Linked DNA regions of Homo sapiens. The protein of the gene in region 5 purifies or fractionates together with the protein of the main gene of each other region. This does not show direct contact. Each region holds a gene or a part of one and is shown on either strand. Other genes may lie near its edges.

Evidence for each region.
Region 1: the proteins of AP3B1 (region 5) and SYT1 purify together in Homo sapiens (co-immunoprecipitation; one large-scale study listed by IntAct). This does not show direct contact.
Region 2: the proteins of AP3B1 (region 5) and CAPZA1 fractionate together in Homo sapiens (co-fractionation; one large-scale study listed by BioGRID). This does not show direct contact.
Region 3: the proteins of AP3B1 (region 5) and ARHGEF1 fractionate together in Homo sapiens (co-fractionation; one large-scale study listed by BioGRID). This does not show direct contact.
Region 4: the proteins of AP3B1 (region 5) and DDX20 purify together in Homo sapiens (affinity purification with mass spectrometry, with the first as the bait; one large-scale study listed by BioGRID). This does not show direct contact.
Region 6: the proteins of AP3B1 (region 5) and FKBP15 fractionate together in Homo sapiens (co-fractionation; one large-scale study listed by BioGRID). This does not show direct contact.
Region 7: the proteins of AP3B1 (region 5) and BTK purify together in Homo sapiens (co-immunoprecipitation; one large-scale study listed by IntAct). This does not show direct contact.

What each region holds. Positions count from the first base shown.
Region 1 is NC_000012.12:79,284,274-79,287,773, reverse strand, and holds part of SYT1 (synaptotagmin-1), read right to left. Parts: intron 1,988-3,500; coding exon 1,803-1,987; intron 1-1,802. UniProt on the Homo sapiens protein: Calcium sensor that participates in triggering neurotransmitter release at the synapse. May have a regulatory role in the membrane interactions during trafficking of synaptic vesicles at the active zone of the synapse.
Region 2 is NC_000001.11:112,622,832-112,626,331, reverse strand, and holds part of CAPZA1 (F-actin-capping protein subunit alpha-1), read right to left. Parts: intron 1-3,500. UniProt on the Homo sapiens protein: F-actin-capping proteins bind in a Ca(2+)-independent manner to the fast growing ends of actin filaments (barbed end) thereby blocking the exchange of subunits at these ends.
Region 3 is NC_000019.10:41,903,684-41,907,183, reverse strand, and holds part of ARHGEF1 (rho guanine nucleotide exchange factor 1), read right to left. Parts: exon of another isoform or gene 3,478-3,500; coding exon 3,400-3,477; exon of another isoform or gene 3,398-3,399; intron 3,150-3,397; coding exon 3,074-3,149; intron 2,969-3,073; coding exon 2,801-2,968; intron 2,236-2,800; coding exon 2,148-2,235; intron 2,010-2,147; coding exon 1,923-2,009; intron 1,425-1,922; coding exon 1,357-1,424; intron 1,246-1,356; coding exon 1,159-1,245; intron 728-1,158; coding exon 564-727; intron 482-563; coding exon 398-481; coding exon of another isoform or gene 381-397; exon of another isoform or gene 376-380; intron 80-375; coding exon of another isoform or gene 1-79. UniProt on the Homo sapiens protein: Seems to play a role in the regulation of RhoA GTPase by guanine nucleotide-binding alpha-12 (GNA12) and alpha-13 (GNA13) subunits. Acts as a GTPase-activating protein (GAP) for GNA12 and GNA13, and as guanine nucleotide exchange factor (GEF) for RhoA GTPase.
Region 4 is NC_000001.11:111,765,901-111,768,500, reverse strand, and holds the end of DDX20 (probable ATP-dependent RNA helicase DDX20), read right to left. Parts: coding exon 1,602-2,600; 3' UTR 501-1,601; downstream 1-500.
Region 5 is NC_000005.10:78,225,199-78,228,698, reverse strand, and holds part of AP3B1 (AP-3 complex subunit beta-1), read left to right. Parts: intron 1-459; coding exon 460-555; intron 556-1,166; coding exon 1,167-1,327; intron 1,328-3,090; coding exon 3,091-3,157; intron 3,158-3,500. UniProt on the Homo sapiens protein: Subunit of non-clathrin- and clathrin-associated adaptor protein complex 3 (AP-3) that plays a role in protein sorting in the late-Golgi/trans-Golgi network (TGN) and/or endosomes.
Region 6 is NC_000009.12:113,183,278-113,186,777, forward strand, and holds part of FKBP15 (FK506-binding protein 15), read right to left. Parts: intron 3,087-3,500; coding exon 2,972-3,086; intron 1,528-2,971; coding exon 1,418-1,527; intron 1,123-1,417; coding exon 1,015-1,122; intron 569-1,014; coding exon 474-568; intron 1-473. UniProt on the Homo sapiens protein: May be involved in the cytoskeletal organization of neuronal growth cones. Seems to be inactive as a PPIase. Involved in the transport of early endosomes at the level of transition between microfilament-based and microtubule-based movement.
Region 7 is NC_000023.11:101,358,692-101,362,191, forward strand, and holds part of BTK (tyrosine-protein kinase BTK), read right to left. Parts: coding exon 3,482-3,500; intron 2,065-3,481; coding exon 1,877-2,064; intron 1,460-1,876; coding exon 1,397-1,459; intron 657-1,396; coding exon 602-656; intron 6-601; coding exon 1-5. UniProt on the Homo sapiens protein: Non-receptor tyrosine kinase indispensable for B lymphocyte development, differentiation and signaling. Binding of antigen to the B-cell antigen receptor (BCR) triggers signaling that ultimately leads to B-cell activation.

The DNA.
Region 1 (3,500 bases), on a different chromosome or scaffold from region 5:
CCAGGTCATAACAGGGGTAATAAACACCACCACTATGCTGTAAATTATAATTTTACATCATACAGAACAAATCCCACAAATATTATAGATTTATTGTCCTAGGAAGAAATGCTATCGTTATCACTTAACATTATTCAGTAATTTTAATTAGTTCTAGAACACAGGGAAACCACATTCAAATTTTATGATAATTATGAAAAAGATAGTGATCTATTGTCAAATTATTGTTTTCACAATATTGATAAAATTAACATACATATTATTCAGTCCATGTCCATCTAGGAGGTTATTTCCACACTTAATCTCCCAATAAGTTGTTTAAAGAAATCTTTATCAAGTCCTGCTTGCTATGAAAAGTGTGGAAATAAAGTAAGACATGCCTGGAAATTTTAGTTTCTACTTAAATTAACTGAAGAGAAAAATCTTTATTAGACACCTGTAGTTGAACGTTTATGCATTGGCTTTTGTGACTGTGATTAGAAATTGCCAGAAAAATCAAACCCTTGCTACTCCGAGCTCAGGCCAAAACTCTCTGAGTATGAGTACAGGCATTTCATCCATTCCATAGCTCCAAAACAGAACAAAAATGCAGGGAGTAAAACATGAGCCTTTGTGAAATTATTATCAATAGATACTATAGTGTCTTTGAGGAAAAAGAGTTTAAAACTGAAGCTGGGAAGGGGAGTTAATGTCCCTGAATGTGTAATGAACTAGGAAACAACGCAAATGTACTTAAAATGCCTGTTGTAACACCTGATTAAATTGTTCTTAAGGAGATTCAGGTTTAAGAGTTTGATTAATAGTAATTAATAGTATAAGAGGAATTTATAAAACTGCTTATATATTTTGCTATTTGGGAATAAATAAAACTTTTGTATTTGATGAAAACATTGATAATTGAAAATGTTAATTCTATAAAAAATCTGTACATTTACATTTTAATTTTAAAATATGAATTAAATATTCTTTAGAGATATTCAACATGGATATTATTTCAAAAATGAAGAGGCATTTAATAATTATCATTAATAATAGTAAACATTATCTTGAACCAAGTTGTCCAATTAATTTAGCCAAAAACAGATAGCAACATAAAGAACATCCAAATAGCTTTTTTGGGCTTGGAAAGATAACCCAGCCAGATGGATTTTATAACCAGTGTTATGGTTGTAATTGTCCTTATTAAATTGAAATGAGAATTTTGTCTTATAAGAAATAAGAAAGAAAACTTTTTCATAAGGCAAAAATTCTATCCTGTCGTGTTCTTTAGAACTGGCTCATATTTCTCTCCCTTCTCCCATGTAACTCATTATTCTTGAGAATTAATTTTTCAGCTGGATGGACATGTAGGAAAAGCAGCTTTCATCCAGTTTGATGAACAGCCGTAAAACTCAGTTATTTAACAGTGACTATGAACAGTAGAAATTAGAAAGATCCCCTGCCCAAATGCAAAACACTCAGGCACTTTTTATCTGATTTTTCTAACTCTAAACGCAATGAAGACTGGTTAAACAGATGTAATCAAAATATTCAGGCATCATTCTCATATGCCAAACCCATCAAGATGGGCCTGATGATCATGGATGCCCTTTTCTGTTCTATATGCTCAGGAGATTGGAAAACCCTGCCAAATGCTTCCATTATGCTTTGGGATCTTGAACAATGACTGAAAGGTTTGCAAAGCATCTCAAAAACGATATGGGTCCAGAAGTTGTTTATTTCTGTAATTATATGGCATAAAATAATACATTTGTTTATCTTTTTTAAACAAAATAAGAAGAAATGTAGAAAGAATACATTACCTGATCTTTCATCGTCTTCCCTAAGTCTTTTACATCTTTCATGTTAATGGCATTCTTCCCTCCTTTTTCCTTTCCCTTCTTCTTGTTTTTCTTTTTGAACAAACATTTCTTACAGATACAAAAGCAGCAGGTCAGGACTAAAAGGACTGCGACTATGGCTATTGCAATTAAGGCCCACGGTGGCACTGAAAGAAACACACAGAGAGCACTAGTCATACAACACTTAGATGTGGAAAACCTTTTAACTCATGGGCTATAAAGATATTCATTTTTTTCATTTGCATTTTTGAGCACCTGTTATGCTGCAGGTACACCATTCCTCAGTACTTTATCCATGTTGTTGTCTCCCTTGAGTGTATTGTTTCCTTTCTTTCCCACTTTGCCCTTCCAGATATGTCAAATGTCATCTCCTCCCTATTACTTTTCTTGACTCTCCAAGCTAGATTTCTAGGAACACATCTCTTCACTCATTCAGAGCCAAGCTTTGGAGTTCAGCCATTGAGTTTAAATCCTGGCTTCACCATTTACTAGCTGTGTGATCTTGGGCAAGTCATCTAACCTCTCTCTGCCTCACTTTCCTCATCTCTAAAGTGGAAATAAATTGGTAGGTACCCCATAGATCTTTCTGAGTATTAAATAATAAGATGCAGTGCCTGGCACATGGCAAAAGCTTAATAAATGGCAGCTGCTATTACTCATCTATAAAATACTAGGTGTTGTATTCTTATGTTCTGGCATGGTATGGGGCAGATATTAGTTGTATATATAGAACAACAAATGTCAAATCATAACAATAGTGAAGGTTAATTAAAAGTACTTGGTGATTTGAAAATCAAGCATGGGGAAAATGTATGCACTGAAGTTCTCCAGATGTGGGTGATGCTCATGTGTTCGGTGGCTCTTAACCCAGGTTTAGATTTTGGCTTCGGCCACTTAGAGGCTGTGTGACTCTACTCAGATTGCTTCACTGTTCTGAGTTTCTGTTTCCTCCTCTATACAGTGAAGATTACAGTGGTACCCATTTCATCTGGCTTAAAGATGAAAGGGATTAATATGTTAAAAAGCTTTTAATGCATCTGGAACATAGCAAGAGCTCAATTAATGTTAGCTATCAATTCTTTTTTTTTTTTTTTTGAGATGGAGTCTCGCTCTCTTGCCAGGCTGGAGTGTAGTGGCACGATCTCGGCTCACTGCAAACTCTGCCTCCTGGGTTCAAGCAATTCCCCTGCCTCAGCGTCCCGAGTAGCTGGGACTTCAGGCACACGCCACCATGCCCAGCTAATTTTTATATTTTTTTTAGTAGATACGGGGTTTCACCATGTTGGCCAGGATGGTCTCGATCTCCTGACCTTATGATCCACCTGCCTCGGCCTTGCAAAGTGCTGGGATTACAGGCGTGAACCACCACACCTGGCCAAAGTTAGCTATCATTTCTTTATAGTCAAGGCATGGTGGGTAAGGCAGAGAGCTCAGGACATATGAAAAAACATAAACTACTCACACAAGTAAATACCTAAAAAGCAAGATAAATACACAGAGGGGAGTTTAGTGAAAATGCAAAGGCAATGAGAGGAGGACGGATGATTTTTAGATAAGAGGAGAGGCTTAGGTTTACAGGCTGTTTAAAATAATAGAACATATATACATAAATATACTAAAATAAACATTGAGTTTTCTATTACAGTTGTCTCTCTGATA
Region 2 (3,500 bases), on a different chromosome or scaffold from region 5:
GTGACCCAACAAACAGAGCAAATTTTAATTTTAAGCCTGTTATTATAGTTCCTATATACCTACAATTTTTAAATTAATGGAAATGGCTTTCAGGGCAAGGGTCACCATGGCAGCCACCTTGGTTAGGCTTGGGCTCTTGTCTGTCAAGCAGGTTCAGGTTCAATTCTACCCCTTTGAGAAGTAGAGATGATGAGGACCTTCCTCTAGATGATGAGTAATGAGAAGGTCCACTCCACCAATCTCAACTGCTCAGCTATTGTGGACATGAGGTGGACATGCAGCATAATGACTTCGAGCCCTGTGTGGACATGCTGTTCAGAGATGCTGTGTGGTCATCGCCTCATTATGTGCTGCACCCATCTCACCACTCTGGAAATGCTCACTGTCTTTGCCTCCCACATTGAGGCCAGAGATGTGGCAAGGAGCCAAGAATGTGCTGGTACTGGACAATGACAGTGCCAAAAAGACCAACAAGCTGATGTTAGACTGGACTAGAACACTTATCTAAAAAGAGGTTTACTTAATCATTCAAATCACTATCTGGAGGGCCACAGAGTAAGGCCCTCTAAATGCTTGGCAAGACCAAGATATCATAATTAGGAAGCTTACTTATGGGGGTGGGAAGCTGAAAGTCCTGTGAACACAATGTTTCTGGGTCAAGGCAAGATTATGGGGGTGTCTGGATGAACCTGAATTTATTTTACTTTCTTATGTCAATCACTGCTTATCCCTTCCAGTATGACTTCTCCCAGTGCTCACTCGAGGTACCTCTTCACTCTTATTTACCAAATCCAGTTGGAAAGAATACTGTCAGAGTGAGTGCTGTTTTCTCCGTCCTAATCTTTCTATCTCAGTAGCATTTGCCACTCTTAATTCATTCATGCCTTGGAAACTTTTTCCCTCTTGGGTCCTTTTTCTTTAAAACACACACCTGGGTGTGTGTTTTAATCTGATCGCTAAAGGAGAGTACTTCTAGCTGGTGAAGGAAATACTTTCATTAGGGGCTTTGCAAGGCTCCAAGTATATATATACACCATCATTTTGGTAACCATAAGGCTTTGCAGTTTATGGGATCTATTAGGAAGATGCTCCCAGAGGGGTCAAATGTTCCCAGCAGTGGCATGGCAGAGCACCAATGATGGCAGATGCTCAGATAGAAGGAATGCACAGAGGCACCCAAACTGTGGACATACTCTTGAATACAAGAAACACCTAGAGACTAACAGAAATAATTGTAGGGGAAGGGGTGTTTTACAGGAGATGAAGGGGTGTGAACTGGAGAGATATGAGAATTAATGAAGTTGTGTTCTCTTTCATACCAATAGGCTGTGCATACACTGTGTGCTTGGCACTATGCTAGGCACTAGATAAAGAGACATGGTTTCAATTATCAAGGAACTCAGTCTTGTAATCAGGGCAAATGTAGGAAAGCAGACAATGAATAGAACCTCCCAGAACATTTTTGTGTTTCAATTTTTAAAGTAGAGATTTTTCATTAGAGTTTGAAATAGTTAATTAAATTTTCTTGGGCTGGTTTGATCCAATTCCTCCCTACTTCTCTATTTTAGATGGAAATTGAGGCCCACCCATAGAGGTTAAGTGAGGTTTCCAAAATCAGTGACAAGGTGGCTAGAAGCACGAAAGGGAAAGGCCATATCTAACACTCACAATCACTCTTTTCCATTACATCATAATACCTCTTTTTTTTTTTTTTTTTTTTTTTTTTGATGGAGTTTTGCTCTGTTGCCCAGGCTGGAGTGCAATGGCGCGATCTCGGCTCACTGCAACCTCCGCCTCCTGGGTTCAAGCTATTCTCCTGCCTCAGCCTCCTGAGTAGCTGGGATTACAGACATGCACCACCACACCTGGCTAATTTTGTATTTTTAATAGAGACAGGGTTTCACCGTGTTGGTCAGGCTGGTCTCTAACTCCTGACCTCAGATGATCTGACCGCCTTGGCCTCCCAAAGTACTGGGATTACGAGCGTGAGCCATCATGCCCAGCCCATAATACCTCATTTATAATCCACTAAATGGATGTCTCTACTCTGGTTTTTCATTCATACCTATATGGAAAAGAAAAGTATAGTGAAAAAAGCATGGCTACATAATCAGAAAAACCTGGGATCTGAATTTTCTGACAAATTTACACTACTTTGTTTAGCATTAAGCCTGGTCGTAATAAAACAGCTAAGTGTTCTGGAAGAAATTATGATAAATCAGTACTACTAACAAGACTGGACATGTGAGTTTGCACCTGCTTATTAGGCTTTATGCTCCTGTCCTAGGATTTCTTTTTCTTTTCTTTTTTCTTTTTTTTTTTTTTTGAGATGGAGTCTTGCTCTGTCACCCAGGCTGGAGTGCAGTGGCACAATCTCGGCTCACTGCAAACTCTGCCTCCCGGGTTCACACCATTCTCCTGCCTCAGCCTCCCGATTAGCTGGGACTACAGGCACCTGCCACCACGCCCGGCTAATTTTTTTGTATTTTTAGTAGAGACGGTGTTTCACTGCGTTAGCCAGGATCTCGATCTCCTGAGGTCAGGTCTCGATCTCCTGACCTCGTGATCCACCCGCCTCGGCCTCCCAAAGTGCTGGGATTACAGGCATGAACCACCGCGCCCGGGCTTTCTTTTCTTTTTTTTTTTTTTTGAGACGGAGTTTCGCTCCTGTTGCCCAGGCTGGAGTGCAATGGCGTGATCTCGGGTCACCGCAACCTCCGCCTCCCAGGTTCCAGCGATTCTCCTGCCTCAGCCTACTGAGTAGCTGGGATTACAGGCATGTGCCACTGCGCCCAGCTAATTTTTGTATTTTTAGTAGAGATGGGGTTTCTCCATGTTGGTCAGGCTGGTCTCAAACTCCCGACCTCAGATGATGCACCTGCCTCGGCCTCCCAGAGTGTTGGGGTCACAGGCGTGAGCCACTGGGCCCGGCCTGTCCTAGGATGTCTTAACAGATTATATGAATACCTCTCAGCAAAACTAACTGAAAAGTGAAGATGGAAGAATGACAGTTTTAATATTAATTGATGACTTGTTAGAAAACAGCCACACCAAACAATCTTTAGGGCTTGCTTTATCCTACAATGGTAACTAGTAAATTAAGGAGGTAATACATAATCAAGGATCCAGTTTAAAAGCATAAATATTTGGCAGGTGCAGTGACTCACGCCTGCAATCTCGGCACTTTGGGAGGCCAAGGCAGGCGGATCACGAGGTCAGGAGTTTGAGACTAGCCTGACCAACATATTGAAACCCTGTCTCTACTAAAAATACAAAAAATTAGCCGGGTGTGGTGGCAGGTGCCTGTAATCCCAGCTACTTGGGATGCTGAGGCAGGAGAATCACTTGAACTCAGGAGGTGGAGGTTGCAGTGAGCCGAGATCGTACCACTGCACTCCAGCCCGCTGGGAGACAGTGCAAGACTTCGTTTCAAAAAAAAAAAAAAAAAGTATAAAATATTTTTCATGTGCTCTAACAAAGCCCTCATATTTCATCTATTT
Region 3 (3,500 bases), on a different chromosome or scaffold from region 5:
GTGAGATGCTGCGGCAGCTGTGTGGGTGGGGGTGGTCCCTCACGTCCTCTCCCCCATTCCTCTCCTTCTTGCAAAAGGCCTGGGGGATGTAGGAGAAGAGGGGAGACGGGGAGAGATGGAGAGAGAGACAGGGAGAGACAGACACAGAGACAAGACAGGGAGAGCAGAGAGAGAAGGGGAGGTGGGGAGAGGCAGGCGGGCACAGAGACAGAGAAACAGATTATCAGAAACAGAGACACAGAGATGAGAAACACGAGGTGGAGTGGGGAGATTCAGAAAAGACAAAGAGGGAGATGGACAGAAGGGGCTGTAGGGATGCGAGCTCTGGAGGGGGACCCTCCTTTCAGGACAGCGCCCTGGCCCCCAGGTGCCCCACTCACCTTCCTGGGCGGGAACCTCAAGTGCAGCCAGGCTGGGGGACAGAGTTCCCCCCAAGCTGAGACAGGAGGGGTCTCAGGCGGCAAAATTCCTCCTCCAACTCCTGGTGGGGTGGGGGTCATGGATGAGGGGGGCCCCTTCCTTCCCCAGCCCACTCAGGGCACCCCTGGCCCGTCCCGCCCCACCTCCAGCTGCTTCATGGTCTCCTCCAAGCTGAGCAGGTTCTCCTGGATTTCCTGGGTCCGTGCTGGGCTCAGGGGGCCGCCCCCTGGGACCCCATCCCCATCTCGAGGAGGCCCCGCCCCATTGTCTTCCTCCGCCGGAAACAGAAGCTGCTTCAGGGACAGCACTGGCCAGGGGCAAGGAGGGGTGGAGTCAGGAGACCAGGGGGCTGGGCTGGGATCTGGGATGGGGGATTCCAAAGGGGATGTGTAGGGGCTGGAGGTGAAGGTGGGTGCCAGGCAAGGCTGAGCAGATGGGGTTCGGGGATCCAAAGGGAGGTGAAGAAGTGAGGCTGGGTTTAGGGTTGGGACAGGGCAGGAAGGTACTGAAGACAGAGATGTGTTCAGGAAGAGGCTAAATATAGAATCAAGCAAGGGATGGTGGCTGCAGAAGAGGGACGTGGGCACCCAGGACAGTGGTGCAGGCTGGGTGGGTTTGGAGCATTTGTTTTCTGGCAGCTGGGCGTAAGGAAATTTTTGACGTGGAGAGCCTTGTTCTAGTTGGAACAGAGGCACTGTTTGGGCTGGTGGCCACCCTGGAGGGGCAGAGCTGGGCTACCTTTCCGAAGGGCCGTGGCAGCGAGCTGGCCCTCGGGGCCTGGTCTGCAGAAGGGCAGGAGGTCACTGAGGATTCTCTCGGTCCGGGCTGGATTGGGGAACAGAGAGGGAGCTCAGATCCTGCCGGGCCTCCTGTGGATGCCTCTCTTCACCCGGCAGCCCCAACCTGGCCCCTCACCCAGCATCCCTCTGGTCTCACCATCAGCTGGAGACGTCTCTCGGCCACCATTGCCGTTCTCAGAGCTGCTGAGGAGGGGTTCTCGGGTGCTGAGGGGAGGAAGTGCTGGGTGACCCCACACCCCTGGCCCTGGGGGGCCGCAGGGGCAGGGAGACAGAGAGCTGGAGGTGGGGAGGCAGGGAGGTCCGGAGACAGAGACAGAGGTCGAGGCCGGGAGACAGGGAGACAGAGAGGCCCAGACAATGGAAGACACAGAGGCCTGGAGACAGGAGACAGACGGGGCAGTGGTGGGGTCGGCACATGCGCACACACACACACATGCATGCACATGCTGTCACACGCATGCACACATATGCATACACACACACCATACACGCACACACATGCACACGCACACATGCATGCATACACACACTATATATGCACGCACAGTCACATACTTGCGTACAGACACACATGTATGCACACACATGCATTCACACATGTGCATGCTCACACAGAGACGGTTCTGGAGTTGTGGAGGGAAGCCTGCCCCGCCTTCCGGCCCCACTCCCTGAACCTCCAGCTCTCTCCATGGCCCCCCTCACCTGCTCGGGCTGGGCCGGGGCTTAGGGCGAGAGGCAGGGGCAGGGACTTTCAGGGATCCGGCAGTCTCAGTGATGAGAGCACACCAGCTGGGGAGAAAGGCCAAATCCCTGGGCAGTCAGAGCCCCCAGACCCTATGCCAGGGCCTCCCCACAGCCCTCCTGTCCCTGGGAACCCAGAAACCTGGGCGTCCTCCACCCACACTCAGAACTCAGACCCCCCCTCACTTTTTCCGCTCCGACACAGTCTGTGCCACCAGCTCGTATATCTGGGCCTCCTGGTCCCAGGTAAAAAGGACGTAGAAGGCTTTGTGATCTGCAGGGAGAGGGGGAGATGGGGCTCAGAGCCCAGGTCCCCCCAGTGCCTGCCCCTCCCTAAGCACAAGCTGGAGAAGTCACCCACAGTGGTGGCGCTCTCAGGGCTCCCATGGCTCAACTCACCACTCACTGTCTGCTAATATCCAGGGCCCGATGTGTCCTCCTGAGCCCCACCTCTCACACCTCCTTATGGAATCGGGCATGTACCCTGGCTTACCTAACGAAACCCCTCCAGCCACTCCCACCCTCCAGCCGCTTCCAGTGTTTGTGGCCCTGGTGCAACTTCCTAGTAGTATGTTTACAAATCCCTCCTCACTGGACTCCTGGCCTTTCTTCTCCTTGTTTACACAAGACACGCCTCTGTGCAAACACCTGCAGCAGTTCCTACCTCACTTATAAACCCTCTAGGCCTGGCCCCGCCCTGCCCACCTCCACCTACTTCTCAACCTCTTTGCTAGAATGCTGGCTCCCTGGCTCTCTAGAGGGTTCTGCTCCCCACTCCACAGGCAGCTCTGCCCAAAAAAGACACCCTCTGCCCTGGGCCATGCAGTGGCTGCACTCACCGGTGGCCACCTCGCGGGTCATGGCGGAGGTGAGCCGCAGCACGGGCCGCAGCATGGTCTTGCCATCGGGCGTGGGCGTCAGTGTCCGGCTATGGGACTTGAGCAGCAGCCGCTCGTCCTGGCGCTGGAGCAGCAGCAGCAGGTCGTCCAGCAGCAGCACATGCACCTCTACGGGGCGAGCAGTGCTCACACGGCGTGCCCCCGCGCGACCCCCTCCCCGCCCTTGGCTCACTGCCCCAACACCCTGCACTAGGCAGCTGCTCTGGCACTCACCCACTGCCTTGTCCTTAGTCACCCGCCACGTCAGTGGGCCCTCGTGGACCAATTTCTTCTTGGTGATGTCCAGGTTCTGGGGCAGGAGGGGGTGATGGTTTGTGCAGGTTGGCAGGGGGTGATTGGGGTTGGTGGGGAGGGGAAGGGCAGGGCAGTGGCCGGGGATGACCACAGGCTGGGGATCATGGGATTGGCATGAGGTGGGGGACAGAGCTCTCGCTTCCTGGGTGTATTATGGGATGGGCAGGACAGGCTGGGGGCTGTATCACAGAATCCCCTGGGCCAAGGAGTAGGGGGGCGGGGGAGGCAGGAGGGTATGGTCACACCTTGAACTCGCTCAGCATAGGGTCGCTGCTCTGCCGAAGGTGGGACAAGTCCAGGCGCCGCTGATAGTCCTTGAGCCTCTGGGGCAGAGACGGGAGCATTA
Region 4 (2,600 bases), on a different chromosome or scaffold from region 5:
TAAAATCCCCCAGCAATGACAAACTGAACTTGGCTGTATTGTGGGGGAAAGGATGGAAAAAGTAAATTCAATTATATATCAATGACAGGATCTTATTTAAATGTGTAATTAAAATCTCTACTTCTTAATGACATACTGGACCTAATTATGGATTTGCTATCTACATTATTAATTAATTCACATACTGACACATGTAAGAAAAGCCTAATATTGCCCAATCCAAATGACAGGAATCCAAGTTAAGTAGGATTTTAGAATTGTGTTATGTAGGTGTTGGACAATAAATGACAATGGCTGTGGGTGTTTGCTGACAGCCCTGGGGAAAGTGTTTATACTACCTAGACAAGTATGTACACAGGAAAGAAGAGCTTTCCTTTTAAAAAGTGAATACACATCTCTCTACACAAGTGGTTCTCTCATAAAAAATCCAGTTCACAGAAAGGCTTGGGAACCAAAAGCTTAATCATAAAAGGATTTCCAGAGGAAAAAAGCAAAGAATATGTAATTTCCAATTATATTTTTCTAAATCGTAATTTACAGATGCATCAGCTCAGATCCAAGCTCCTCTTGGATCCTAACATTAGAGGTAAAAACTGGGGAAAATTTTCTAGAAGACACAAAATTAGGATGTACTAAGAAGTGTCTGAAGAGAATCAATTCCAGCTTCCACAAAATACTTAAAACTAAGAGCTAGAACTTCCCCTAGCCTACCAGCAGAGCAGGTCACTTGTTAATCTGGACTGTATAGATGAACTTCAGAGGGTCTATGAACCCCTTGAAATTACACTCACAATTCTGTGCTTATGGAATGAGAAATTTCCTGAAGTCAATCTATAGCTATCAGCTGATTCATAAAAGGATCCAAGAACCAAAAAAGATTAAGAGCTGCTCCTCTATCTGAGCAACACAAGTAAGACAGCAACTGATGACCCACAGCTATTTAATACACAGCAAAAATGTGGACAGCTTTCACAGCCTCAAAAGACATTCAAAAGATAAACAACAAACATGTAAATATATTTAAATTTGTTTTTACTAAAAACAAATATTTTTACTGGAAGCTAACAGATCAAATCAAATACCTTTAGGAAAATCTAAAGCAATGTTTAAATATTCCTTCCTGCCTAAAACCTAAGAGGATTTTCTGATCTACCATGCTACAAATTTCTACAAGAATGCACCTCTATAGAAGGAAATGCAGCCTAAGCCCTTTGTAAAGAACTCCACAGCAATAATATTACTAATCAAATCTATTGCTTTTATTGTTTTTAAGTAAGTGGTGGTATATGTCATCTTTTTAAATGTTTCTTTTGGGAAGATCTTATAGAAAATGGCACCCTGAAACTTTCAGCTCTATGTCCCAAAAATTATCTTTCAACAATCTGATGAAGTTTCTTAAAGAAACTCTTAAAAATGAAGATAATATACCTGGCCTAAATCAAAACAATCTGAAAAATGGATGTGTCCCAGTGGAAAGACTCAAGTCTTTTCAAGTTTATCAGAAATGCCACTATACACCACTGTACTATAAGTCGAGGAGGATGGATATCCAAAGGTATCATTTGTTGACAGTTCCTGATGGTCTCAGGTATATCCTATAATCACTGGTTACTATGCATCATTTCTTGTAGATAAATGGTATTCATGTGATAAGCTGCCATCCAACTTGGATGTCTCTGAGCATTCCAATAATATGAATGAGAAGCGGCAGCATAATATTCTTGCCATGCCCTGTAGTAAGCTCTCCAGTACTCCTCATAATCCTGATAGGTATCAGAAAAACTCAGACGTATTTCCCTATGACAGTCATACCAATCATCTTCCTGGGCTTCAGTCTGCAATCTGAAGGAAGACCGCCTGGGTAGGTTTCTCCGGCTCTGCTTAGCTCTCTGGCTAGCCCCCTCTTTAAGTCTTGTCTTCATCTGGATTCCAGGTGATTCTTGATATTTCTCTGGATTGGGGGTGTCACTTCCATTTGGTGGTTGTTCCAAAGAAATACGATCATCCACAGGCGTAGATTCAGAGTCTTTCAGCTGATTATCAGAAGAGCCTTCCAAGTATGACTTATTTCCTTTGCTCTGGGAAGAGGTTCTTGAGCTGTAAGAATCACTGTCACTCTCAGAGTCTCCAGATTGGCTACTACTTGCCAACACAGGGACTCTCTGTTCAATAACTTTATTTCTCACAAAACCATTTTGAGGATTCACAGTCTGATCCCCAGGGCCTGTGTAGTGCCTGATGATTTCCACAGGTTTCTCTAACCCCTCTTTAATATAATGTTCATAATCCTCTACCAATTCAGCAAAAGTCAACGTGTATGGCTGATGGATTTTAAAGGAAGACAGACAAGGAATCTGGGGGAGTGACACAGGTAAAGCTTCTTTGACCTGGTGCTGACTGTTGGTGGAGTTTTCAACGGGAGTCTGAACAGAATTCTTCATTTGCTCTTCGGATTGCCTGTCACAGCCCAGTTCTTTTGGTGACGTTGCTTTTTCTATGATTCCACATTCTGAGTGGCTTTTCACAGGAAGCTTTTGTTTGGTATTATTTTTTGATTTGACTGATAGTCCAGATACAGAATTATTTCTAGAGGAAGCCAT
Region 5 (3,500 bases):
ATTTTTTAAAGAGGTAGGGTCTCTCTGTGTTGCCCAGGATAGCCTCTAACTCCTGGGCTCAAGTGATCCTCCTGCCTCAGCCTCCTGTGTAGCTGGGACTACAAGCATGTACGCCATGCCTGGCTTCTTTCTTTTATTTTTATCCCTCATTTTGAAAATATTTTTACAATTTAGTTAATATTCTTATATGAGATCTGCTCAGGGATTTTTTATTCCCTTCAAGAGGAAGGGACACTTTGATAGGCTATTGCTATTGTGAACTGGACTATTAAAATGCTTACTTTAAAAGCTTTTCCTGTTGTACTTATTATCCCACAAAATATTATTTTTATTTTACAATCTAACATGTGACCAGATTCAGTTATTTACTTGAGAAGAATTGAGCATGGATTTTGGTATAGCAAATACTGAGTTTTAAATTTTCACTCTGGTTATGAATAAATGATTTTTTTTTAACAGATCAAGAAGTTGGTATATGTTTACCTGGTTCGATATGCTGAAGAACAGCAGGATCTTGCACTCCTGTCCATAAGCACTTTTCAGCGAGCTCTGAAGGTAAATAATGGAGTGAGTAGGCAAATAGCTACAAGGTTTCTGCAGAGTTGAAAGTGTGTCAGTTAAAGAAGTGGAGCGATAATCCACTAAATAGCACAGTAGTGTCTTGAAAGAGTTAAAAGCCTCCTATAGTGCCTACTCAGTACACTTAGAAAATAATTTATACAACCAACTGAAACCTTGCTGTATATGTTACAGCTTCTGTATGTTTGTTTATATTCAATATAATTATTTTCATGCTTCAAAGAGCTGTTTATCATTATACTAGTTGTTGAAAGTACGCAAAAGGGGTTATAAGACATTTTTAAACATGAAATTGATGACCTGCAGCATTTTATTATTATGAAAGTATAAAAACCCAGCATATTTAGTAATAAATGACCAACTAGAATTATAACTATTACTTTTCTTTAAAACATTATTAAAGAAGTAAACATTTATGTCTGTCTTTTTTTCCCATTCCTATATACTAATTGTTCATTTTAAATTAAGTAGCTTTCTTTTGCTATTGTCATATTACACCCTTTAAGCACCTATTAACTGTGTCTGAAAGATATGTTTAAAATATTGTAAAGTTGAAATTTTGGTGAATATTTTTGCACTATTTTTAGGACCCAAACCAACTAATTCGTGCAAGCGCTTTGAGAGTTCTGTCAAGTATTAGAGTGCCAATTATTGTACCTATCATGATGCTTGCTATTAAGGAAGCTTCTGCTGACTTATCACCATATGTTAGGAAGAATGCAGCCCATGCAATACAAAAATTATACAGGTAGGTGCATTGTTAACAATATACCAAAGATCTCTGATGTTACATGGAATGTTATAGACCACAGAGGCTTGTTTTATTCGCTCTTTTAGGTAGGCTGCTCTTACACTAAGTAAATCCAGTGACTGTATGATGGTATTTCCCCCTGCTGCAAATGTTCCTTACACATCTTTAATTTCGTTTTGGCTATAGAGACCCTATGCAGGTTTTTATTTGTGAGGCTGTTAGAGCCTGTGATAATTTATAGATTTTATAACTTAAGAATAATCAGAATTTGAATTCTCATTTATATAGTCTATCTCATGTACACATATGCTTGTATTATTAGAAAATTGAGATTTTTTTTTCCTGTTTAGGGTAGAATCTTAAGTGTCTGATCCTCTCAACTCACTTATATGTGTTTTCCTTTCTTCCATCTTTGTTCCTGCTGCTCCCTTCGTTGTCTAATTCTTTTCCAGAGCTATTTTATTAAGTAATTTTAAAAAGTGTAGTGATTTGAAATATAGTGTGCTATACCATATCTGTGTGATATTTTAGAAATGTTATGCAATATTATACAATGCCCTGATCTCTGTGGAAAATTTACTGTCCAAATAGAATTGTCTACAACAATTTGGTATTATTTTCAGCTATCATTTATTCCTCAAGCTTTTTGAGACTCTCTTCTGTTTCTGGTGTTGTATTCACAGTATTGTGCTATGTGTATTTAGATGTATGAAAACAGTAGAGGATGTGGCACTTAATTATGAATAGCATATCATGTATTTGAGGAAGAAGATCAAAGACATACCAAATAATTAAAGGCAATCTATAATGAATAAGATATTAGCACTTGATATATATGTATATACAAAGGTACACTAGCAATGTCTTTGATAGGACAGGGACCAGAGATGATCATATTTTGTTACCGGAAAGTAAAGATGTAATGAGATGGGATTGGTAGTGAAATACTGCTTTGAGAAGGAAGACTTAAGCTGAAATTTGAAAGAATTAAAAAGTTTGTCCAGATAATTATAATGTTTAGTAATAAATGTGTATGTTTGTAGAAAGTGAAACCTCATATTCCTATGTTAACTGCCAGACAAGGTTTTATCATGCTTCTCACTCACCTTTTCTCCTTAGAAACTTATGGGATAAGATCCATGCTCACTCTAACGGCTTAAAAGTCCTTCTATCATTGGGCACCAGTATATTCCAGCCTCAATGCTTGCCTCTCCTTGCCTTGAGCTTATAGTCTGTTAGTATTCTATCTCAAATGTTTTAAGCTTATTACTACCTCTTATTTTTCCTAGTTTTAGTTGGCAGATTTTATAATGCATGTCTCTATCAGTGAACTAGTATGATATAAAATTCTTATTTGGAAATTCTCCATATTTGTTTTTGGGAAGTATGTATGCATAGTAAAATAATGACTGCTATCTAGTTATTTTTTTCCTCCCAGTTGAAAAGAGTTTGTGGTTTATCTACTTACAGTCGCTTTCTTGAAGTTTTCCAACTCTTTTAGAAGTGAACTTGTTCTTTCAGTACTATCTTAACTAAACCATTGATATCTGGTTTAGTTAATATGAACAATATTAGAGGGAAAGATGAGGACACATTCATGAGAAAAACCATCCCATTTTATTTGTTTTTCTTTATTTCTAACTTATAATTCTTGCTCTCCTTTCCCTCTTTAAAAATTTCTCAACATCCTTGAATTGGTGAGCATCATGTAAAGCTAGAATTAAAGGGAAAAATTAATATGTTATTTTTGTATTTTTTAGCCTTGATCCAGAGCAGAAGGAAATGTTAATTGAAGTAATTGAAAAACTTCTGAAAGATAAAAGCACAGTAAGTAATGTCTTTTTACGTCTTTGACATAAAAATGTACTTTATTTACATAGTATCATTTACCATTATATATTTTATATAGTTGTATTTATTGATTTCAAAATGGTATAAATATTAATGGCACACAGGACTATTTTTAAAGAACAAAAATTTTCATGTAATGAGAAAGACTGCATTTGGAGTTTTAGATCGTTATGTGTTTCTTCATCAGAATCTGAAAAAAGGCAAGTTGAGAAAAAAATCTTTAACCTGTGGCTAAGTGGTTAACATGGTAAGATCAAGGAATAGAGGTGACCTATGGGGGATGTGAGTTACTAGTGTACTAGTATCTTAGATGGGGCTT
Region 6 (3,500 bases), on a different chromosome or scaffold from region 5:
GTTCCACTCATCCTCCCCACCCACCCCTCCAAATCTTCAGAAGTATCTACAAAAAGTACAAAATCCTTAGGTCTTATATGGGAATCAGTGAAGTTTTGGCTGAGTTCTGATGGATAAAATAGAGTTAGCCCACACAGAAGAGAGAAGAGTTGACACCAGAGTTCTGTAAGTAATAATACCAGTTTTAAAGATAAAGAAACTAGGGCCAGCAGGAATAAATAACATGCCCAGAGCCACAGAATGAATGAGGGTCAGAGCAGGAATCAAACACAGGTCTGCCCTACATCACAGCCTACTAAGCTCCTTCTACTGCAATGCCTCTCAGAAAACAGGCAATAATTCACATGACAGGCAGGAAACAGAAATGGCAGAAATACATACGTACTGCCCTAAACAAATACGTGTACTTAAGCTGGGCATATACATAATAAACCCTTTTGTCCATCCTAGCCAGGCCCCGTACCTGTCATTACCTCTGATTTCGTTCAATTAGTTCACTAATCTTGTCATTCTGTTCTTCTATCCGATTGCTCTTTTCAAGGATCTCTTGCTTCAATCTTTCATTTTCCTAATTTCAAAATATATGATGTACAATTTAAGTGTCTTGGGAGAAAAGTGCCAGATAGAAGAGAATCAACTTGAACTGACAGGTGACATTGTTAACATGTTTTGAGACAAAACACTAGAACTTATGTCCACATGTATGTTAAAACAACACATCAGATTACACCTGATGGATACAAATCACTAGGTCCAATGGATTGAGTGAATAAATGGCTAAAAAAAGAAGTGAAATTCTGAAGTATGGTCAAAAAAGCAATGTTTCCTTCAGAATATATAGTGATAAGTCACTTGGACAGAATTAAGCCATAATGGATTTTCTAGAATTGTCTAACCCAGTGTAGCGTTTATCACAGGCTATTTCTGGGGTGGAGGTGTTAAAGAGTAGTACCTCTGAGAAGAGAGGATGGGTAAGACCTTCAGCCTGAGTGGTATGTTCTTAATCACCCTCACCTGAATGATTCGCTGGATGTTGCTCATAATCATGCTTGTTTCCATTGTAACTGACATGCTAGGAATAAGCATGGAATTGCCAGCACTATGTTTCTGTAACTCTTCAACCTACAAAAGGGATACCAGAAAGACCTTGTGAGAAATTATAAAATGAAGAAATACAATTTACCCAAGATTTGACCCTGTTGTTAAGGGGGTTAATGAGTTCCTGGGACAATCTCTAACTGTTAAGTTAGAGTTTTCTCCTACTAACTGGATCCCAACATAATTATAACTATCCTTGTAGGGAAATAACCTCTCACTACTACCAATGCAGGAAATCAAAGAAGAGTTTACCTACAGTTCTGGCTGCTCCCTGTTTACATCCCCACTTTCAACATCACCCCAACTCTGACTCAGTCACCTTAGTCATGAGATGATCCATTTTATCAGCCACTTTGCTGACTGCCATTCGAATTTCAGTGTTATGTTGCCGGGCTTCAGTCATGAGAAATGAAGCCATATCACCTGATCCTAAACAGATACAAGCCAAAAAGAAACTTATGAAACTGGAGCAGAGGAAACTGTATGAAGAAAAGCTAGTAGCTCTTCCAGTAAAGAAAGAAATTAATACTTCCATACACTAGGAAATGCTATAGGTGACTTCACCCTGTCAGGAGAAGATATATGGGAGAGAGTAGAGGCAAAAGGGCTTCAAAGTAAACAATAACTAAGCCGTGTTCCTGCAAAATGCATCAAGGGCTACATCTGGTCCAAGGGCACAAATATGCCCACTTTGCACTGCCACAGCACCGGCAGCTCAGATTACTTTCCCGTTCATCCAACTGTATGCCAAGCATTGTACCAGGTACCAGGAATACAGCAGTAAACAAAACACGGCTTCTGCCCTTGGTGAGCTCTCAGTCTGGCTGGGAGACTGACATGTAAACAAATCATTACAAGAGAGTGTATTAAGTGCAAAACAATGGACCATATACTAGGTATAAAAGTAGCACAGAGAAAAGCACGATTAACTCTTTGGTGACACGCGTACACAGTTGTGTTTGTGGGAAGAGAGGAAAGAGGGACAGAGAATAGTCAGGGAAGGCTTCACAGAGGGAGATGACAGTTTTGATGGATGAAAAAGCGTATCCCAGATGGAGAAGGGCAGAGCTTCCAGATAAAGGCTGCATTCAGGAAATCCTGACCAGTCCAGAACCACAAATTATGTTGCAGGACATACTGGCTTCTTCCTACCACTGTCCTAATACCAAAGCTGATTACTAAACAGAAGACTAATAGCAGAACAAGGCAGGATTCCATCATAGCAGTTTACACTTTATCTTGGTTTGATTTTTTTACATTAGATACTCACATTTGTACATGCATACAAAATATCTGAAAAGTTACCCAAGTAACTGTTAACAACAGTTTCCCAAGGTCAGGGGGTTTATGGAGGGGAAGGACAGTAACTTCACTTTACACCCTTTTGTACTGCTTGACTTTTTTATAAAAGTCTCTTATTTTCATAATTTAAAAATGTTAACAGAGTAGCTTTCATTAGAGATACTAAACACCTATAGTATTCAACTTTCTCCCAATTTCCTCCAATGTTTTGCTCTTTTACTATTTTCTCTAAACTCTAGCTACTCTAACAGAGGAATTAAAAGGGCCAGGGGAGAAAATCCAAGGAAAAAAACACAGAATGTGGACACAAGGAAACATTGGGGGATGACGGAAATGTTCTAAAATAGGATTGTAGTGATGAATGCACAACTCTGCAAATTTACTAAAACACTTTTGAATTGCACATTTAAAATGAATGAATGTGTGGAATACATATTATATCTCAACAAAGCTGTTAAAAAAGAGAAGAAACAATGAGTAGAGAGCTGTTGGTGTGAAAATGAAGGAGGAGCAAGAAGAGGGAAAGCACAGCAAGAGCGGAAGATGAGAAACTGAGGGAATTACTCCCTACCTTGGAAATGGGGAGGCTGAGAGAGCGGTGCTGGGTACAAAGGCCGAACGGGCTGCAGCTGGGAGGTGACGGCAGATGCCTGGGGATAAGCGTAGGCTTGCATACCTGCATAGGGCTGAGAAACTGACGAGTTACCACTGGTTGATAAAACATTCATGTCTTTCTTTTTTGTTCACATTTTTCTTTGGTGGAATAAAGTGGATGAGCTGGGAGGAGACTCAAACTTACTGAAGCTAGAGATGGGTGAGATCTGGGTTTGGCAGTTGGTAAGGACTGCAGCAGGAGAGTTATCTATGTATCCCAGGGGAAACCAGTCACTAAAATCCTACCCAGAAACTGAAGAAAGTGTATCTTAGGTCACTACCCAGTCATCTGGTGAGATAATTAAGCAGGGATTCATTCCCCATTATCAGGCCTATTGTCTAAGAAGTTTTTAGATTAATAAACTCTGCTTAGCTTCCATTGAGTTTAAAGAAGAAGTGCTCACTGAGATTCCAAACCAAATCTGCCAATTTCCAAGGATGCCTCT
Region 7 (3,500 bases), on a different chromosome or scaffold from region 5:
TTCCCCTGAAACAACGAAAAAGAAGCTGTCTGTAGGAGGAAGTGGTGCTCACACCTGCATCCCACCTGCCCAAACTTGAGAGAGAAAATAGAACAACCCCTGATTTTACTGCCAAGTTCCACGCTTGAGCTACAGCCTCATTGCTTTTAATATTAAAAGGTGCAGGCCGGGCATGGTGGCTCATGCCTGTAATCCCAGCATTTTGGGAGGCCGAGGTGGGCGGATCACCTGAGGTCAGGAGTTCGAGACCAGCCTGGCCAACATGGTGAAACCCCGTCTCTGCTAAAAATACAAAAATTAGTCGGGCGTGGTGGCATGTGCCTGTAATCCCAGCTACTTGGGAGGCTGAGGTAGGAGAATTACTTGAACCCAGAAGGCGGAGGTTGCAGTGAGCCCAGATCACGCCACTGCACTCCAGCCTGGGTGACAGACCGAGAGTCCGTCTCAGAAAAACAAAAACAAAAAAAATGGTGTAATTGGGATCCCAGACGATGGCAGCTTTGACACTGCCTTGCCCAAAGGTAGGGGGCAGAACAGGCCCTCAGTTCAAGATCCTCACTTATGCAAGGAGAATGCTGTGTGCTAGTGGTTCCACACTTACCTCTTGCTTTAGCAGTTGCTCAGCCTGACTCCGAGTCATGTGTTTGGAATACCACCTGTGAAGGGAGAGTGCTGCTTGAGTGGCTCCTGGTCATAAGCAGATTGGAGGTTACAGCACCCTCCAGGGCTTGTCCATGTCAGTGATTCAGTCAACTCACTCAAACCCTATTTACTGAGCATCTGTCATGTGCATAGCACACTGTATCCCTTTCCCAAACCCAGGTTGGCATTGAAGATTCATGGAAATGGAGAGTAGCAGGCAAAGGCAAGCAGCAGGGAGTTGCAGGGAAGAGATCAGGGACTAGGGCACTTGAGAACAATCCACTTCCATGATTAGGGAGGAAAGGACAACAGTAGCAGTTTGACATTTTAATTCTTTCATCAGGTCGTCAACTCCTTTTTCTTTGAGTGTGATTCTTCTGGATTTGAGGGCATGGTGACCTCTCCAGCTCTCATAAATGGAGGGTGTTTGGGGGGTAAAGGTAAGACAGATACACTAATTTGAGGTGGTGGCATCATTTGATTCAGATGGTACTAATTTTAATATATATCTTGAAATAAAAAATATGTTGAAAGTAGAAAAAAGTGTATATATATATATACACACTTGTGTATGTATACATAATATACCTATATATACACCAGTGTATGTATACATATGTATACATATATACACTTGTGTGTGTTATATATATATATAAATATATATAAAATATATATAAATAAATAAATATATATATATATAGAGAGAGAGAGTTCCTCCTGGAAGATTGTGGACTGACATAAACATACTTACTCATACATTTCTATGGAGTCTTCTGCTTCAGTGACATAGTTACTAGGAATGTAGCCTTCCTGCCTGTGAAGGAAACAATGTGGCAGTTCATCCAGCACCTCCCCAGCCTCCAGGAGACAGATTCATATGCCCACGTCCCTGAGCTCAGAACAAATCTCAAATGGAGGTATATGTATCATGCACCTCCCTCAAAGACAATCATGTCTCTGATGCATGGTTAGGCAGTGAGCCAGTGAGGTGCAGAGCTTATGCACATGTTGCATTGGTTATATGTGCCCAACAACAGAGGCTCAGAGATGTGGCAGAGGCCATGTATAGGGAGCTGCACGCTGGGAAGTACTTGGAGGGAGAGCATGTTCAGTCTGGTGTGGGAAGAACAGTCTCTGATGAGGATGCTGATCACGGGAATTATGCCGCAGCACTTTTTGCGTGTAGGGAGTGGGCAGGCACCAGGCTCAGGAAGGGCTGGTGTGGACTCACCCATTTTTATCTCGTGCTCTCCACCATGGTAAGTTGCTTTCCTCCAAGATAAAATATTCATCACCCTTCCGCAGCTGTAGATCATTTGCATTCATTGGCATGTAATCATAAAGGGCCACAACCTTTTTCAGCTCACTTGTGGAGACTGGTGCTGCTGCTGGCTCAGGCGGTAGTGGCTTTTTCAAGATCTATGTAGTTAGGAGAAAAGGTAGGAGGGTTTGTCAAGATACCAAGCACTCTTCTCTTCTCTCCCAACTCTCTGGCTTACTCAAGACACCCAAATCAGGCATACTAAAATATTACTCAGCAGTCATTCAACAACCATTTTTAAGCACCAGTGCAGGAGTTCTCAGCCTTGCACACATATAAAGACCATGTATGGAACTTTTAAATTCCAATGTACTTTCGGAGGCCAAGGCGGGCGGATCAGTTGAGGCCAGGAGTTCGAGACCAGCCTGGCCAACGTGACGAAACCCCATCTCTACTAAAAATGCAAAAATCAGCTGGGCATGGTAGTGTGTGCATATAGCCCCAGCTACTCAGGAGGCTGAGGCAGGAGAATAACTTGACCCCAGGAGGCGGAGGTTGTAGTGAGCCAAGACCACGCCACTGCACTCCAGCCTGGGTGACAGAGTGAGACTGTCTCAAAAAAAAACCCACAAAAAACAAAAAACCAATTCCAATACCTAGTCAGTTTCCTCACAGACCAATTACATCAAAATCAAACTCTCAGGAATGGGACCCAAACATTACTATTTTTAAAGCTCACTAGACAAAAACCATTTATAGCTAAGGTCAGGAAACCGGCTTGGCACTAAACTTGTACGTGAATCTACTAAGTGGCTCAGAACCTTGGTTTCCTTCTTTGTAAAATGAGTATAATAATACCTGCTCTACTTACTTACAATATGTGAGAAAGGGCTTTCTAGCCCTCAAGAAGGAACCAAAAAAAAAAAAAAAACTTCTGAAGTGTTAGTGATAGGTGGTGTTAGTGCTAAGTGTTGAGTATGTTGGTATTAAGTGTTAAATTCTTCTAACTTTACTGTATGTTTGAAAATACTTTCCAGCTGGGCACGGTGGCTCACGCCTGTAATCCCAGCACTTTAGGAGGCCGAGGCGGGTTCGAGACCAGCCTGAACAACATGGTGACACCCCCATCTCTACTAAAAATACAAAAATTAGCTGGGCGTGGTGGTGCATGCCTGTAATCCCAGCTACTCAGGAGGCTGAGACAGGAGAATCACTTGAATCTGGGAGGCGGAGGTTGCAGTGAGCCGAGATCATGCCATTACACTCGAACCTGGGCGACAGAGCGAGACTCCGTCTCAAAACAAAAACAAAAGCAAAAACAAAACAACAACAAAAACTTTACATTAAAAAAATCAGGTTTTGTTCTAAACAGGTGATTGGATTACATGGTTGCTGAGAGCCTTCTATCTTTCCATCGAGGAGGAAATCCTAATTAGAAGAACAAATCCCCCATCTTAGCAAGAATACCAATTAACACTGCCAAGTCCCAGGGTAATTCTAAGACTCTAGTGTGTTCTTAGGGCTTGACTATAAGTTTCCATTTAAGCAGTGGCAGCACCCAGTTTCCCTGTATACCTGGTCCTCCTCAGGCGTT